Linked DNA regions of Homo sapiens: region 2 is linked to region 1. Evidence: fine-mapped expression QTL. Tissue or cell type: whole blood. Region 1 holds a variant in brackets; the other region holds the start of a gene. All regions are shown on one strand. Distances are between the middles of the regions.

Region 1 (8,256 bases):
CTATGTGGCACCCCGCCGCCTGCTGCTGACGGGCACACCGCTGCAGAACAAGCTTCCCGAGCTCTGGGCGCTGCTCAACTTCCTGCTGCCCACCATCTTCAAGAGCTGCAGCACCTTCGAGCAGTGGTTTAACGCACCCTTTGCCATGACCGGGGAAAAGGTGGGTTTGCCCAGCTGTGCCCATGCTGACGGTTCCAGGTGCGGCTGGCTTTGCTGGTTGGAACGTGTTGAGCACCAGCTACAGCTGGCTGGGCCTGTGCTGGGTGCCTGGTGAGAGTCTGCATCTGCATGGAGCAGGGGAGCCCTGGAACCCAAGGCTGGGGCAGCCACAAGGGCCCCAGGGGAGCAGGGCAGAGGTCATGGTGGTGAATCTCGGAATGCTCGGGGCGTCTCTGACCCTATGCTCCAGGTGCAGAGTGGATGGTGAGGAAGATGGCCCTGAGGCAGCTGTGGGACCGCAAGCGTGTGGAGAGCACAGCTAGAGGCTGTAGCGTGCTGTAGGCCCCTTTAGGTGCCCTCAGAACTCACCCTCAGGGCAGTGGGAAGGAAACTTGGAAGATTCCAGTTAGCGGGGCCACATGGTCAGGTTCTGTCTTACGTTGTTTTCAAAAAGCTCAGTGGCCAGTGTGTCTCAATGTCTGGGTGGCACCATCAGCCAGACTGTGGCATGGCAGCATCATCATTGATGAGTGGTCCCACACCAGCACTGATCCCTGAGCCTAGAGCTCCTTGCTGTTGGAGGTTGAAACTGTGGGACAGACTGTGTTTCCTGCTGAGGGGTTTAAGTAACCAGATGCTGAAGTGTGGGCAGAACTACAGAGGTTACCTCGAAGTGCCCTGCCCAGCACGGCTGGGCCCACCCCCTTCTTCCCACCTTAGACAGGTCCAGGGCAGCTGGGGCCTTCCTGGCCTCATGCGTGAGTTCCCTGCCCTCTCGGCTGCTGGTCAAGGCAGAGACTCTTCTGATGGCGAAACCGAGGCATTCCCCAAAGCCTCGTGATAAAGGAGTCCCCAATTTTTAGACTCCCGGGACCCCCACACTAAGGGCCAGGATCTGATGCTATAGTTTTGTCACTTTCTGAGCCGAGCAAAAGCTCTGCCAAAGGATTGCCAGGGAAGCAATAGAAGAAAAGTTTTGGCGTCGTCTCATTTTCCTTTAACTTTTTTAATTAAAACATTTTAAAAGTTAATTATTAGTAGAGGAGTAGGCGCCGTGGGAGGTCAGGGTTTCTTTCACCTGGTTCCACCCAGGCTGAATGAGAGTCCCTTGGGGCTCCCGGTGGCAGAGCCCTCCCTGAGAATCACCCGCTATAAGCCCCATGTGGTCAGCCTGGCCCCTGCAGCGCTCCTGGCATGAGCTTGGCGTGGGGTGGGTCTGTGGACACTCCAGTTTGTGTTACTCGTGGAGAAGCAGCATGCCCGCTGCCGGGGGTCTTTCTGGTGAGGCACAGGGAGCAGAGTGCTCTGGGTACTGCGGTTCCATGTCCCAGGAATTACATGGAGGGAACCAGATCCTCACAGTTTCCTAAGGAAGAGGGTGCCCTGCCTGGCTCCCAGAAAGCATAAAGCAGGCTGAAAAGCCACGTGCCAAGGGCAAGATCACCCCAGGGGACCCCGTCCACCCTGTCCCCACATCCGCACCTTCTAGTGAGACCTCTGTCGCCCTCCTTTGGAGGTAACGCTTGCTTCTCCTGTCTTGGGGGCTTCCAGGTGGACCTGAATGAGGAGGAAACCATTCTCATCATCCGGCGTCTCCACAAAGTGCTGCGGCCCTTCTTGCTCCGACGACTCAAGAAGGAAGTCGAGGCCCAGTTGCCCGAAAAGGTGATGGAGTTTTGAGGGGAGCCACCAGTGAAGCAGCCTCACGTGGGGGCTTTCTCCAGGGCTGGGCGTGCTCAGGGCCTCTCCCCACAGTCCCAGGCCTGCCCTGGTCAATCCAGCTTGGGGGTGGCGATGACGCCACTGGGTCTGTAAAGCCCTGTGCTGCTGTTGTAGGGATTGAAAAGCACTCATAGGCTCACATAGCTCACAATAGGTTAGAGCACAAAATCCCACTTCCTGTCAGGGGGCCAGGTGCCTGTGCGGGCTCTCCTGGCCACATCAGGAGGGGCCGTGGGCTTGGGGTTGCCCCCCGGCCCCCCATCATGGCTCTGGGTTTTCAAGGCCTGCTGCAGCCACACCCCTGGGCCCAGTTCCCACAGCAAGACCCATGGACTCGGGGTCCCCGGCTGCAGTTGTCCCTCTTGGCTCTTTGTTTCCTGGCTGGCTGTAGAGAGGCCCCCAGAAGATGGCTGGGGGGCCCTTTCTGGCCCAGTAACCCTCTGGTATCTCTGCCTGGTGCTTCCTCTCATTGCCCAGGTCTCCCCTCTTCTCCCCAGCTGTGAGGGTCTCCTCACCCACACCCCAGTGTGCTCTGGTCAGAGCTCATATGACAGGGCCGAGGGGGTCAGAGCTGGGTTCGGATGGGGGGAGTCAGGCCTCAAGCCACCTTGGGCCCTCGTGAGCATTATGTGTCCCCTGCAGGTGGAGTACGTCATCAAGTGCGACATGTCTGCGCTGCAGCGAGTGCTCTACCGCCACATGCAGGCCAAGGGCGTGCTGCTGACTGATGGCTCCGAGAAGGACAAGAAGGTGGGCCCCAGAGTCCCCCAACTGCATTCCCCACTGGGTGTCCAAGGCCGGCAGCGTGGCAGGCAGAGCAGAGCGTGCTCTGACCATCGGGTCATGATCTGGTCATGATCCCCAGGGCATCTGGCCAGCCCTGGTTATGATGGCTGGTGGCTTGTGTCAGGACACACTGACTCAGCTGCCAGTGGCTTCTCCTTTGCCTATGAAACACTGGCTCCTTCTGCAATTGGCAGCCTGGGCCCAGCACTAACCCCAGCAGGGTTAGAGTGTTCTAGAATGCCCCCCTTCTCTGTTATTAAGTGAAAGGAAGGGAGCGGGCTGTCTCCTGCAGGGGCTGCTCTGAGAATCCCAGGCCCCAGGCCCCACCTGCCTGGCTCTCCTCACCAGCAGTGAAATTATCCTCCCAGGAAATGCACCAGACCCCTTGATTCTGCCCCCAAGGCCTTGACCTCGGCCTGGCTTCCCCGAGACGTTGTGTCTGTGCCCCTTCTCCCCTGAGCTGAGCAGCAGTGTGTTCCCTAGTCCATTCCCAGCCCAGAGCATGCACCCCCCGCCCCGCCCCCACCTCCTTCCTCATCCTGGAGCCCAGGGAGCCCTGAGTCATGGCTCACCCGGCTGAGGCCCTCTTGCCCAGCTGAGACCCTCTAGGGACCCCCACAGTAACAGTGCCCAGAACAAAGCTGGCATCACAAAGCATCGGGGACTCTGCCTCAGCCCTTTGCCAGTCTTGTTTCCGTCCCGTCCTGCTGGCCCTGTCCCTGCCATCTGCCCTCTGCTGTGCCAGGCAGTCATTTGTTTCCCAGGGCTTGTTGGGGGCCTCCGGGCCTCCAGCCTGCCATCTCCTCACTCCCAATTGCTGTGCCAAAAGCCACTCTTCCCCACTAGAGCGTCCCCATGGCCCTTCTCCCAACACCCACCCATCCACCAAGCCCACCCCACCCCAGGAGGGCAAGACCCCATTTGGGTCCCTCTCATCTGCCTTCCAGGGCAAAGGCGGCACCAAGACCCTGATGAACACCATCATGCAGCTGCGGAAGATCTGCAACCACCCCTACATGTTCCAGCACATCGAGGTGAGCCCGCCGCGGCTGGGACGGCTCAGGCCCTGCTGTCTGCTGAGCTCCTAGGCAGAGCTGGCTTCTCCTCGACAGCTCTTTAAAAACAGACTCGAATATTTTCATTAGGTAATGCC[T/C]GTACATCTGTCTCTCATTTGGTCTTCGCTTCACCAGTGCTTACGGGAAGAATCCCAGCAGTTAGGGCGCAACGTGCGATAGGAATATAGGGCCCTGAAAGCTTGCCCTCAGAGAGCAGGAGCGTTTGGAGACTTCTCTGGGGATGTGTCCCCCCACAGTGGGGTCCTGCTGCGTCTCTTTGGCTCACTGGCTTTTCTCACGTTGCGGGGCGTCAAGAGTCACCACCGTCTTCAGTGAAGTGTGGGGGAGTCAGAACCCTTTTTGGTCATGGTGGCTTTGAGAATCTGGGTTCTTAGAAGCATGCATATGTTCGTGTTTCTTGGTGTAAAGTGTCAGGGTCGTTGGAGACCGCCTGCTGCCCCGAGAGCCCCTGGGGCTGTCTCAGCACCCTGAGCGTGGCTGTGGCCCCATGACGTCCTCGTGCATTCAGGGTGTGAAGAGTGCTGTATGGGATGTCCTTTCCTTCGTTGGAGGAGTGTGAGGGAAAGGATGTCAGTGGACTAAGAAAGATGGTTTTGGCATCTGTGTCTGGTCTCAGAGCCGCCGTGGGCCCGTGCCGAGCACACAGTGTGGGGGCTTTGTCCTCTGAGCACGAGCGGTGTGTGCGGACCGCAGCGGGGCCCGGTGGCCTGCTCCTGCCTGTCACTGACCCCTCTCTCCTTGCCTTGCAGGAGTCCTTTTCCGAGCACTTGGGGTTCACTGGCGGCATTGTCCAAGGGTGAGAAGCTTCCCAACTGGATGGGGTGGGCAGGTGGTCCACCCAGAGGTTTTCTGTCGTTTTGTTGGCTTTATTGCTGCTGTTATGTTGTCCAATTTCAAAGGCAGAAAATTAGAAAATACAGAAGAATCCAAAGCAAATAATACAAATCTTTTTTTTTTTTTTTTTTTGAGGTGGAGTTTTGCTCTTGTTGCCCAGGCTGGAGTGCAGTGACACAATCTCGGCTCACTGCAACCTCTGCCTCCTGGGTTCAAATGATTCTCCTGCCTCAGCCTCCCGAGTAGCTGGGATTACCGGCACCTGCCACCACCCAGCTAATTTTTTGTATTTTTAGTAGAGATGGGGTTTCACCATGTTGACCAGGCTGATCTTGAACTCCTGACCTCAAGTGATCCACCCGCCTTGGCCTCCCAAAGTGCTGGAATTACAGGTGTGAGCCACCGCGCCCGGCCCCATTATACAAATCTTTAGTGCTTGGAGAGCTGACCACTATTAACCCCAAGAGACAGGATTCCTGAGGCAGACCTGGCTTACAGATCCCACTCTGCCGCCTCCAAGCTCTGTGACTCTAGACAGCTTTCTTAACCTCTCTGAGCCTAAACTCTGCTCACTAGTACAGAGGCACTCTTTACATCATGTGGGTGTTTTCTATAGCACCCTTTGTAAGGGGCAGCCCAGACTCCTTTAAGCCCCTAATGGATGTGGATGCTGTGTCTAGATTTTCACCATTGCAAAGAACCTTGCTAAAAGCATTCTTCCAGCTAAAGCCTCCATTCAATTCCCCTGGGGTAGTAAGCCATTTGCAAGAAGAGAGGCGCCTAATGAAAACATCACAAATTCTTTTTGATGTGTTTTTTTATACTGAGTTGTGGAACAGGGTCCTGTACACCTGGCTTCAAGGCTGGGAGGCCTGGCTTGGACATGTGGTCAGCCATATCACGTCGTCCCCCTGCCAGCCTCAGTGTCCACATCTACAACACTTGGGGTTTGGCTGGAGAGAACATGAGAAGCCGAGGTGGCCCTTCCTTCTGGGTCTAGCAGAGCATGGGTGTCTCCAGTGTGGCATTTGCTCCTGGGGCTTCTTTATCGGGCAAGGGGACAAGGTCTGGCTTCCCGGAGCATCCCTGTTCCAGCCCCGTGTTGTGCCGGCCATGTGACTCACAGCTCCTCTCATTTTCATGAGTGTCTGGGTTTGACGAGAAATACATGTGCCACCCTGGTGATACGCCTCCCCAGCGAGGGTGGCCGGGCTTATTTCAGTTGGGGGAAATGGCTTTGCTGAAGCTTTGGGTGGGTGACGTCTGCTTAGGATGCATGTCTGTGCCCTTGAACCCGGCGCCTGGCCTGGAGGCGGGCGATGCACCTCCTGCCTTACCTGCCTGCAGGGTTCCAGGTTTAACATCCTGCGCCTTCTCTCCTGCCTCCTCCACACTCCAGGCTGGACCTGTACCGAGCCTCGGGTAAATTTGAGCTTCTTGATAGAATTCTTCCCAAACTCCGAGCAACCAACCACAAAGTGCTGCTGTTCTGCCAAATGACCTCCCTCATGACCATCATGGAAGATTACTTTGCGTATCGCGGCTTTAAATACCTCAGGCTTGATGGTGAGTATGAGCCAGTGAGGCGTTTCTTACAGGGTTTTGTTGTTGTGGCTGCCACAGAAGCTCCTCACTGGCATTCCCTCCTGTGAGGCAGGGTGAGGCCCAGGCGCTCTGGGTCCAGTGGCCAGAGTGGGCCTAGCCACAGGCTGAGCATCTTGGGCACTCGGCACTGGGACAGGCCGTGGATTGGACGCCGGGTGTCCTGACTCCTAGGCTGACAGTCTTTCCACGACAATGCTGGGCGCACTGGGGAAGGGGTGCCCTGTGCACTTTTAGCTGGAAGTGACAGAATTCCATACCATGTGGACACAGGAAAGAAAGCACCAATAGGCTTACATAGCTCTAACCCCAGGAGGTTAAACATCCTTCAGGCACAGCTGGATCCAGGCATGCAGGTGATATTGGAGAGACTTTTCTCCAGCTCTTTGCTCTGCCTTCTTCCATCTTGGCTTCCTTTCCACCTGCTCAGTGTCCCCAACAAAGGCAGGTCCCAGGCTGGCTCTCATTTAGCTGCTGTGAGCCGCATGCCCATCCCTGGGCCATTCGTAGCAGCCCAGTGACTGCCACCTTGCCACAGGTCAGGCCTGGACCTGGAATCAGACTCTGTGGTGAGCACGGAGGGAGGGAAGCAAGCACTGCCAGGCAGGAGCAGCAGCTGCCGTAGAGAGGCTCTCAGCCCAACCCCCTGCCCTGCGGTCCCTGATGGGAAAGGTCACCGCCTGTGTTTCTGCGCCTGCCTGCCCCAGCACACGGGAGCTCAGGGAGGAGAGGCTGTGAGATGCCGACAGGGCACGTGAGACATGTCTGTCAGTCCCAGTGGGTCAGGGAGCCCTGGAGTGAGTTCTTCGTGGGAGTTACTAGAACTGGGCTTACGAGAAACACGAGCATGAGCTGCTGAGACAGACACGGCTCAGCCAGTTTGTTGTTCCCTACACGACCTCCCAGAGCCTTTGTTGAAGCTCCTGTGCAAGGTCTGTCTCACAGCAGGACACCCCAGACCTCCATACCCCTTGTCCCGTTGATCACTTGGACCTGTGTTTGCTGGGCCAACCTGCCCAGGTGCCACCCGGAGTGTGCCCTGTGTGTCCCTCCAAACTGCAGGTCCTCCCCGGGGTTCTGTCCAGGACCACTCTACAGACACGAGTCTGTTGCAGGGGTCTCCCCGGCTTGCCTTCTTCCTTGGGGGCTTCCCACTTTCAGCTTTGAGGCTGAAAACCAAAATCCTTCAGGGTCCTCATGGCCGGGCCACCCCCCACCCTTTCCTCTCCTACGGTCTCTCCAGCGGCTTCTCCCGTCCTCGAGAGGGCCAAGGCTTCCTGAGGGCCATCCCGTCTGTGTCGTGTCCCTGACTCCCCCAGGAGAGAGCCTGGTTCCCACCCATCCCAGTGCCCTTCTGCCTACTCCATAAGGACAAGGACTTTGGTCAGTTGAACTACAGATGTGTCCTCTGCATGTGATGTGGTCATGGCCACAGGGCCAGAGAATCCATTGCGAGTAGAGGAAGGGTAGGAGCTCAGTGAAGTCTCCTGAGACTGCATCTCCCATGGGTGGGCTGGCATCTGGGAGCCGGGTGGCCCCTCACCTCAGCCCCTCCTCCGAGCTGGAGTAGCAGGGGCACATCTGGTGCCTGAGAGAGGGTGGGACGGCAGGTGGATGGCCAGGCTACTGTGGGCTTCTGCACCGTGCCTGGGCATGTGTAGGCTGGTGGCAGGAAATGGCCAGTTTTTATTTCTTCTTTTTTTTGAGACGGAGTTTCACTCTTGTTGCCCAGGCTGGAGTGCAGTGGCATGATCTCAGCTCACTGCAACCTCCGCCGCCTGGATTCAAGCGATTCTCCTGCCTCATCCTCCCTGGTATCTGGGATTACAGGCGCCCGCCACTACGCCCAGCTAATTTTCTTGTATTTTTAGTAGAGACGGGGTTTCACCATGTTGGCCAGGCTGGTCTCGAACTCCTGTCCTCAGGCGATCCACCCACCTCAGCCTCCCAAAGTGTTGGGATTACAGGCATGAGTCACCGCGCCCGGCCTGCCAGTTTTTATTTCATCACCAAAATGACTTCAGTGTTCAGGGGCACCTCTGTCCGAACTCCCAGCAGCGCAGGGAGTGTTGACATT
Region 2 (8,000 bases), 64 kb before region 1:
GGTCAGGCTAGTCCTGAACTCCTGACCTCAGGTGATCCGCCTGCCTCGGCCTCCCAAGTGCTGGGATTACAGGCGTGAGGCACCGCGCCTGGCCCGGCCTGTTTTTCTTTACACTATTGCATATTAGTGTGATTAGCATAAAAGACAATTAGAGAACAGTCATACCATCCACTCCATGGGCAGCAACCCTGCCTCCTCCATGCATTGCTGCAGGGTATTCCTAGCTCAATGCTTAGCATTTGGAGAGAGCATAAGAAATACTATTTGGCCGGGCGCCTTGGCTCACGCCTGTAATCCCAGCACTTTGGGAGGCTGAGGTGGGAGGATCACCTGAGCCCAGGAGTTTGAAACCAGCCTGGACGACATAGTGTGACTGTCTCTACAAAAAATTTTAAGAAAATTAGCTGAGTGTGGTGTCCCACCCTTGTAGTCCAAGCTACTCGGGAGGCTGAGGCAGGAGGATCGCTTGAGCCCAGGAGGTCGAGGCTACAGTGAGTACTGATCGTGCCACCGCAGTCCAGGCTGGATGACCCAGCAAGCCTGTGTCTCAAAAACAAAAACAAAAAAACAAAAAAATAACTACTTGAATGAATGAGGAATCGAGTTCAGATCCCACTTCTACTTGCTCACTTACTGTGCACTATTCAATAACACTAGCTGAGGATCAGAGAGCTAGCAGGTGGGCTACCTGCTGTCATGATTCCTCATAACCAAACAGTGGAAGTGGGAGCCATTATTGTTTCTGGTGGGTTTTTTTTGTTTTGTCTTGTTTTGTTTTTGAGACGGAATCTCCCTCTGTCACCAGGCTGGAGTATAGTGGCACGCTCGACTCACTGCAACCTCCGCCTCCTGGGTTCATGCAATTCTGCCTCAGCCTCCTGAGTAGCTGGCACTACAGGCACGCGCCACCACAGCCAGCTAATTTTTGTATTTTTAGTAGAGATGGTGTTTCACCACATTGGCCAGGATGGTCTCAATCTCTTGACCTCATGATCCACCTGCCTTGGCCTCCCAAAGTGTTGGGATTACAGACGTGAGCCACTGGGCCCAGCATTTTTTTTTTTTTTTTTTTTTTTTGAGATGGAGTTTTACTCTCGTCACCCAGGCTGGAGCGCAATGACATGATCTTGGCTCACTGTAACCTCCACCTCCTGGGTTCAAGAAATTCTCCTGCCTCAGCCTGCCGAGTAGCTGTGATTACAGGCACCTGCCACTATGCCTGGCTAATTAATTTTTTTGTATTTTTAGTAGAAACGGGGTTTCACCATGTTGGCCAGGCTGGTCTCGAACTCCTTACCTCAGGTCATCTGCCCACCTTGGCTTCCGAAAGTGCTGGGATTACAGATGTCAGCCACCGCACCCAGCCTTATTGTTTGTTTCACAGGTGAAGAAAGTGAGGTGTAGATGCTCTGGTAAACCTGCCTGGTATTACCCATGCATCACCCAGGTAGTAGAAATGGAGTCGTGTTTTAAACCCAGGTCCTTCTGGGGCCTGGCTTGGTGGCTCATGCCTGTAATCCCAGTGCACTGGGAGGCTGAGCCAGGAGGACTGCTTGAGCCCAGTAGTTTGAGACCAGCTTGGGTAACACAGCAGACCTCAGCTCTACAGAACATAACAGACAAAAAAAAAAAAAAAAAAAAAAAGCTGGTGGTGGTGGCATGTACCTGTAGTCACAGCTATTTGGGAGGCTGAGGTGGATCCCTTGAGTCCAGGAGTTTGAGGCTGCACTGAGCTGTGGTTACACCATTGCACTCCAGCCTGGGTTACAGAGCAAGACCCTGTCTCTAATAAAACAAACAATTAAACAAAAACCCACCCAGGTGAGGTGGCTCACGCCTGTAATCCCAACACTTTGGGAGGCTGAGGTGGGCGGATCACTTGAGGTCAGGAGTTAAAAACCAGCCTGGCCAACATGGTGAAACTCTGTCTCAACTAAAAATACAAAAATTAGCCGGGCGTGGTGGCGGACGCCTGTAGTCCCAGTTACTCGGGAGGCTGAGGCAGGAGAATCGCTTGAATCTGGGAGGCAGAAGTTGCAGTGAGCTGAGATCGTGCCACCTCACTCCAGCCTGGGCAATGGAGTAAGACTCCGTCTCAAAACAAACAAACAAACAAACAAACAAACAAACAAACACACAAAAAAGAAAACACACAGAAGAGGCCAAGAGGCTCAGGGCCTTCACTCTCGGAGGAAGGTTTCTCTCTTTCACCACCAGCCTGTATGCATTCAAACGTGTTCTTTGCAACGACGACTTCCGTGGCTGCCCTATTTAAAATGTCCATGATCCTCCCAGTGTTCACCTCACACTGTACTATTTATTTTTTTTGAGACGGAATTTCACTCTTGTTGCCCAGGCTGGAGTGCAATAGTACGATCTCGGCTCACTACAATCTCCACCTCCTGGGCTCAAGCGATTCTCCTGCCTCAGCCTCCCGAGTAGCTGTGACTACAGGCGTGTGCCACCACGCCCGGCTAATTTTTTGTATTTTTAGTAAAGACGGGGTTTCACCGTGTTAGCCAGGATAGTCTCATCTCCTGACCTCATGATCCACCAGCCTAGGCCTCCCTAAGTGCTGGGATTACAGGCATGAGCTACCGCGCCCGGCTAATTTTTGTATTTTTAATAGAGACGGGTTTCACCATGGTGGTCAGGCTCGTTTCTAACTCCCGACCTCAGGTGATCCGGCCGCCTCGGCCTCCCAAAGTGCTGGATTACAGGCGTGAGCCACCAAGTCCGGCCTCTCATACTGCACTATTTTGCTTATTAATCTTGCTTCTTGTCCTCCTTCCCCACTAGACCGAGGGCTCCACGGCGGCTGGGACACAGTAGCAGATCAATAAATATTTGCTAAGCTAATTAATGGCACTTGGGAAGTTTTGCAGAGAAGGCGGCCACGGTCGGGCCCCGCCTTGCCTCCCCAAATAGGCCTCGCCGCCCCAGGTCAGGGATCAAAGCGGTTCCCAGGCGCGCCCTTGGCCCGCGGGAAACCACTGCCCGGTCTTGGTCCAGGCGGCCCGTCCTACGGTCCAGGGTTCCTATTTCCGAGCCTCAGGGACCTCCTTTCCCCACGGACCCCACGGCCACCGGGATCCCATTCTCCAGTTGCCCCATCGTCACCGCGGCCGCCGCCACCGCCGCCGCAGTGGCGTCCGCTCTGCGCATGCTCCGGGGCGTCAAGACGCGAGGCGTGCAGAAGGCGAAGCGTGCGCAGGCGCGGGGCCATCGCGGCCCGAGTGGGGCGGTGCATCGGACGCGCGTGCTTCCTCCGGGCCACGCCCACCCCCGTCCGCCCAGGGACGGGCGCGCACGCGCGCCGGGAGCGGAAGGGCGGGCTGGCGCGCGCACGAGGCCGGGCAGGCGGCGGAAGCTGGAGAGGCCGCCGCGGTGCTGAGGGGGAGGGGAGCCGGCGAGCGCGCGCGCAGCGGGGGCGCGGGTGGCGCGCGTGTGTGTGAAGGGGGGGCGGTGGCCGAGGCGGGCGGGCGCGCGCGCGAGGCTTCCCCTCGTTTGGCGGCGGCGGCGGCTTCTTTGTTTCGTGAAGAGAAGCGAGACGCCCATTCTGCCCCCGGCCCCGCGCGGAGGGGCGGGGGAGGCGCCGGGAAGTCGACGGCGCCGGCGGCTCCTGGTAAGGAACGCGGGCCGCGGGGGCAGCGCGGCGCGGGGCCGGGGAGGGCGGTTTGAATGGAGCCGGGGCGCCGAGGGGGGAGGGGGCTGCCGGCGCGCCCTGTGCGGGGCCGGGGTACGGCGGCGCCCGAGGGTCAAGAAGCCCAGCCGGCAGCCGCGCGCGTGGGGAAGGCCACAGTGTCGCGAGGCCGTGGCAGCGGCGGCCCCCGCGGAGCGGCGGGGTGGGTGGGGGGCCCGGGCCGCGTGGAGGCCGCGCGATCCTCTCCGCGCGCGCTCTCGCCGGGGTCGCCGGACAAAGCTCGCCCCCCTCGCCCGGCACCCCTACAGTCGCCCTCCCAATTACAGCGGCTGCAACAATAGGCAGGCGTTGGGGCTTTTCTGGCTGCGTGGTAACGGGTCCGACCCGAATGTTGCGTTTTTGGCGAAGCTGCGATCGGGGCTCAGCCAAACCTCCAGATATGTCCGGCGTCGGCCGGACACGGGCATTAGCGGTCCCCTTGGGCTAGCCGACCTCAAATTGTCTTAAAAACGTGTCATTCCAGATTTTCAAGGAAAGGTAAAGGACTCCCCCGATGCCTTGCAGTTAGTGACTTCAAAATGTTTGCCCGAATTGGGGTTGGGGATGGGGTCGGCGGCAAGTAGGGGAGCACGGAGGAAATCCTTTGCTGTGTAAAAGCATTGCTTTTCTTTTGCATCCTTTTTTCTCCTTCCCAATTGGTTTTTCAGATTAAGGCTTTTATTTTCAACGTGGACCTTTTGGGCGAGTGTTTTGTCCCGATCTTGAAGATACCAGTCTTGATTTTTTTTTTTTTTTTTTTTGGTCAGTGACTCCTTGGGGAAAGTAGCAAGGGAATAAGCGGAAAAGCCGCTTCGCAGGAATTTGAAGCAAGTTTTCAGTTTGGATTGATAGGCTGCATTCAAGCTTGATTCCTGGTGCTGTCAGTCACTTAGCACACTGTCACTTTAGGGAAGTGGCTTAACCTCTCTGAACCTCTTAGTTTTCCTCCTTTGTGAAAGCTCCTTTGTGAAAGGGGGTAATCTCCCAAATGGAATTGGTGAAAGCCTGTAAAATGGTTCCTCGCAAGCGGGAAGCACTATTGTAATTGTCTGGTCCAATCTCCCTCATTGTTCAGCAGATAACTTCTTGAGGCCCTACTAAGTGTTGGATGGTCGGGGGTTGGATCCTGGAGCCTCTGCAGTCTTGGAGGGGAGCGGGTGGTAAATGTGGGAACAAACTCTCTTGGCCTATCGTTTATTGCTCTGAACCTGCACTGTGAGAGGGACACAGCGGACAGGCAGGGGATCGGTGGTAGCCAGAGATCACGGGGGCTGCTTGGAAGAGGGGGCCTCAAAATCAGGGAGGGTGTGTAGGATTGTATTTTGTTTTTGAGGCAGAGTCTTGCCTGTCGCCCAGGCTGGAGTTCAGAGTCCCAATCTCCGCTCACTGTAACCTCCGCCTCCTGGGTTCAAGCGATTCTCCTGCCTCAGCCTCCTGAGTAGCTGGGACTACAGGCGCCCGCCACCACGCCTGGCTAATTTTTGTATTTTTAGTAGATATGGGGTTTTACCATGTTGGCCAGGCTGGTCTCAAACTCCTGACTTAAGGTGATCCACCCACCTCGGCCTCCCAAAGTGCTAGGACTACATGTGTGAGCCACTGCGCCAGGATTGTATTTTGACTTTCCCTGGCCACCTCGGACTAGCCATTGTTCCCCTCAGCTACATTCATACATCAACTTGGTCCTTTCCGGTGTAGCTGTCACCCCCAGCACCGTGAGAGCTGGGGTTGTGTCTGCCTGGCTGGCCCCACAGTACCCTGGGCCTGACACATAGTAGGTCTTTAGCGAACTTATGTGGATTGAATGAGGGGGTCCTGTGGAAGATCGCGTGACCATCTGTGTAAAAGGCTTGGTGCAGGGCCAGGTGCAGTGGCTCATACCTGAAATCCCAGCACTTGGGGAGGCTGAGGCGGGAAAATTGCTTGAACCCGGGAGTTTGAGACTAACCTGGGCAACATAGTGAGACCTCATCTCTACAAAAAATACAAAAATTAGCCGAGTGTGGTGGCATGCACCGGTGGTCCCAACTACTCAGGAGGCTGAGGTAGGAGGACTGCTTGAGCCAGAGAGGTGGAGGCTGCAGTGAGCCATTCTTGTGCCCCTGCATTCCAGCCTGTGCACCAGAGTAAGACTGTCTCAAAAAAAAAAAAAAAAAAAAAGAAAAAGAAAGCTTGGTGCAGGACTGGGGGTGGATTGTAAGGGATACAGGTTAGTTGTTTGAACAGTTTTTGCACTTTCCAAGCCATTGTTTCCTGAACCTCAGTTGTCCTCATCTCCCCTACAAAGTGTGGGGTGGTGGTTAGCGTGGGGTGGTGGTAAGGAGTACTCATTCTGGAATCAGACCTCCTGAATTCACACCCAGCTCTCTAAATCGTAGCTTAACCTCAAGCGAGGCGCTTAGCAGTAGGGCCCCCCACTTGTGAAACAGGTAGGACGAGGATGCCCGAAACTTCACAGGCTTCTTGTGAGGGTTGAATGAGGTCACATGGGAAGCCGCTAACACACTGCTGCACCTGATGCGTAGTGAACACTTGATTTTTTTTTTTTTTTTGAGACGGAGTCTCGCTCTGTCATCCGGGCTGGAGTGCAATGCCCCTGTAGTCCCAAGCTCCTTGAGAGGCTGGGGCAGGAGGTACAGGCTGCAGTGGACCATGATTGAGCCACTGCACTCCAGCCTGGGTGACGAAGCGAGACCCTGTCTAAAAAAAGGAATAAAAATTAATTCATGCATAGTTAGGAAAGTAATAAATGGTTTTGCATGGGCCACCTAAAATCATTTTGTGTCCAGCCCTTTAGGAGACGTAAATGTTGATCGTGCAGGCTTTTGAGCAGGGGAGGTGATGTCATCAGAATTGTGATATAGGGCAGTGCAGTGGTCTCTAAACTTCTTGTCAGTGAGGAGCATTCCAACATATGTGTATTTATTTACAATTTATTTGTGTACCTTTGCTTCTCCTTGGGAACCCTCAAAACACCAGGAGATAACCTTAGACCATTCCATGTTTTGGCTGTTTGTGGGAGGTGGGAGCATGGGAGGGACTAGGGTTTTGGGCAGATGTCTGGTGGAACTTTCTTTCTTTCTTTCTTTTTTTTTTGAGACGGAATCTTACTCTTGTTGCCCAGGCTGGAGTGCAATGGCACGATCTCGTCTCACTGCAACCTCTGCCTCCCGGGTTCAAGCGATTCTTCTGACTCAGCCTCCTGAGTAGCTGGGATCACAGGTGTGCACCACCACACCTGGCTAAGTTTTGTATTTTTAGTAGAGATGGGATTTCATCATGTTGGCCAAGCTGGTCTTGAACTCCTGACCTCAACTGATCCACCCACCTTGGCCCTTGGCCTCCCAAAGTACTGGGATTACAAGTATGAGCCACCGCGCCCGGCCTCTTTTTTTTTTTTTCTTATGAGACAGAGTCATTCTGTCGCCCAGGCTGGAGTGCAGTGGTGCGATCTTGACTCACTGCAACCTCCGCCTCCTGGTCTCAAGCGATTCTCATGCCTCAGCCTCTGGAGTGGATGGGACTAAGGACGTGCACCACCATGCCCAGCTAATTTTTGTATTTTAGTAGAGACCGGGTTTCACCATGTTGGCCAGAACTCCTGGTCTCGAACTCCTGGCCTCCTGTAATCTGCCCACCTCGGCCTCCCAAAGTGTTGGGATTATAGGCGTGAGCCACCGTGCCCAGCCAGTCTGGTGGAACTTTCTATCAGTAAGGAAACTGAGGCCTAGGGTTATTTTCTTTCCACAAGGGTTGTCAAGTCAACCACCTGGGTTTGACTCCTGGTTTTGTCTTTCCATCCCTCGGTCATCAAGGCTGCCATGGCACAGAAGGACCCATTCATGGTGCCTGTAGACAGAACACAATGTGAATAGTGCCCCCTGGAGTTGTGCAAGAAATGACCCAGCCACTCTTCCCCATTTATGTGGCGAACAAGCATGCATTGAGCGCCTGCCATGTGCCAGGCACTGCTGGGGAGCTGGGGATTCCATGGGGAACAGGCAGACAAGGGTCCTGTTCTTAGTAGCTCACACCCCACTCTTGACTTGCAAAGGGGGACAGTACTAGTACCCAGCTTGTAGGATTGCTGCAAGAGCTGAACAACCAGTGACAAATGCGAAGTGCTTAGAATGGTGCCTGGCACATAGTGCTAAACAGTTGTTAGTGCTCATCATTTATTAGGATTCCTGCAACAGCCTGGTGGGATGACACAGATAATATACTTTTTCCTCTAGTCATAAGTTCTGTATGTTTCAAAGTGGTAGCAAAGGAGTCAGCTCCTCCATTTTGTCCTTAATGGCTGCACATTGTTTAACAG

Evidence for each region. PIP is the estimated chance that this variant, and not a neighbour inherited with it, causes the effect.
Region 2: SMARCA4 starts here. The variant in region 1 is fine-mapped to the expression of SMARCA4 in whole blood (TOPMed, PIP above 0.99). The same link has a PIP of 0.9 or more in lung.

The regions. Positions count from the first base shown.
Region 1 is chr19:11,021,808-11,030,063 of GRCh38, forward strand. SMARCA4 (SWI/SNF related BAF chromatin remodeling complex subunit ATPase 4) reads left to right here. Exons shown (of 35, transcript NM_003072.5): 19 at 1-160; 20 at 1,711-1,824; 21 at 2,524-2,631; 22 at 3,615-3,701; 23 at 4,493-4,539; 24 at 5,977-6,143. Among named protein-coding and RNA genes, the nearest start is that of LDLR, 64 kb to the right of the region's middle. RefSeq lists an enhancer at 6,337-6,837. The variant T/C (reference allele first, on the strand shown) is at 3,821.
Region 2 is chr19:10,957,550-10,965,549 of GRCh38, forward strand. SMARCA4 (SWI/SNF related BAF chromatin remodeling complex subunit ATPase 4) reads left to right here and starts at 3,481. Exons shown (of 35, transcript NM_003072.5): 1 at 3,481-3,625. RefSeq lists silencers at 3,209-3,628, 3,679-3,738, 3,789-3,848 and an enhancer at 6,366-6,495.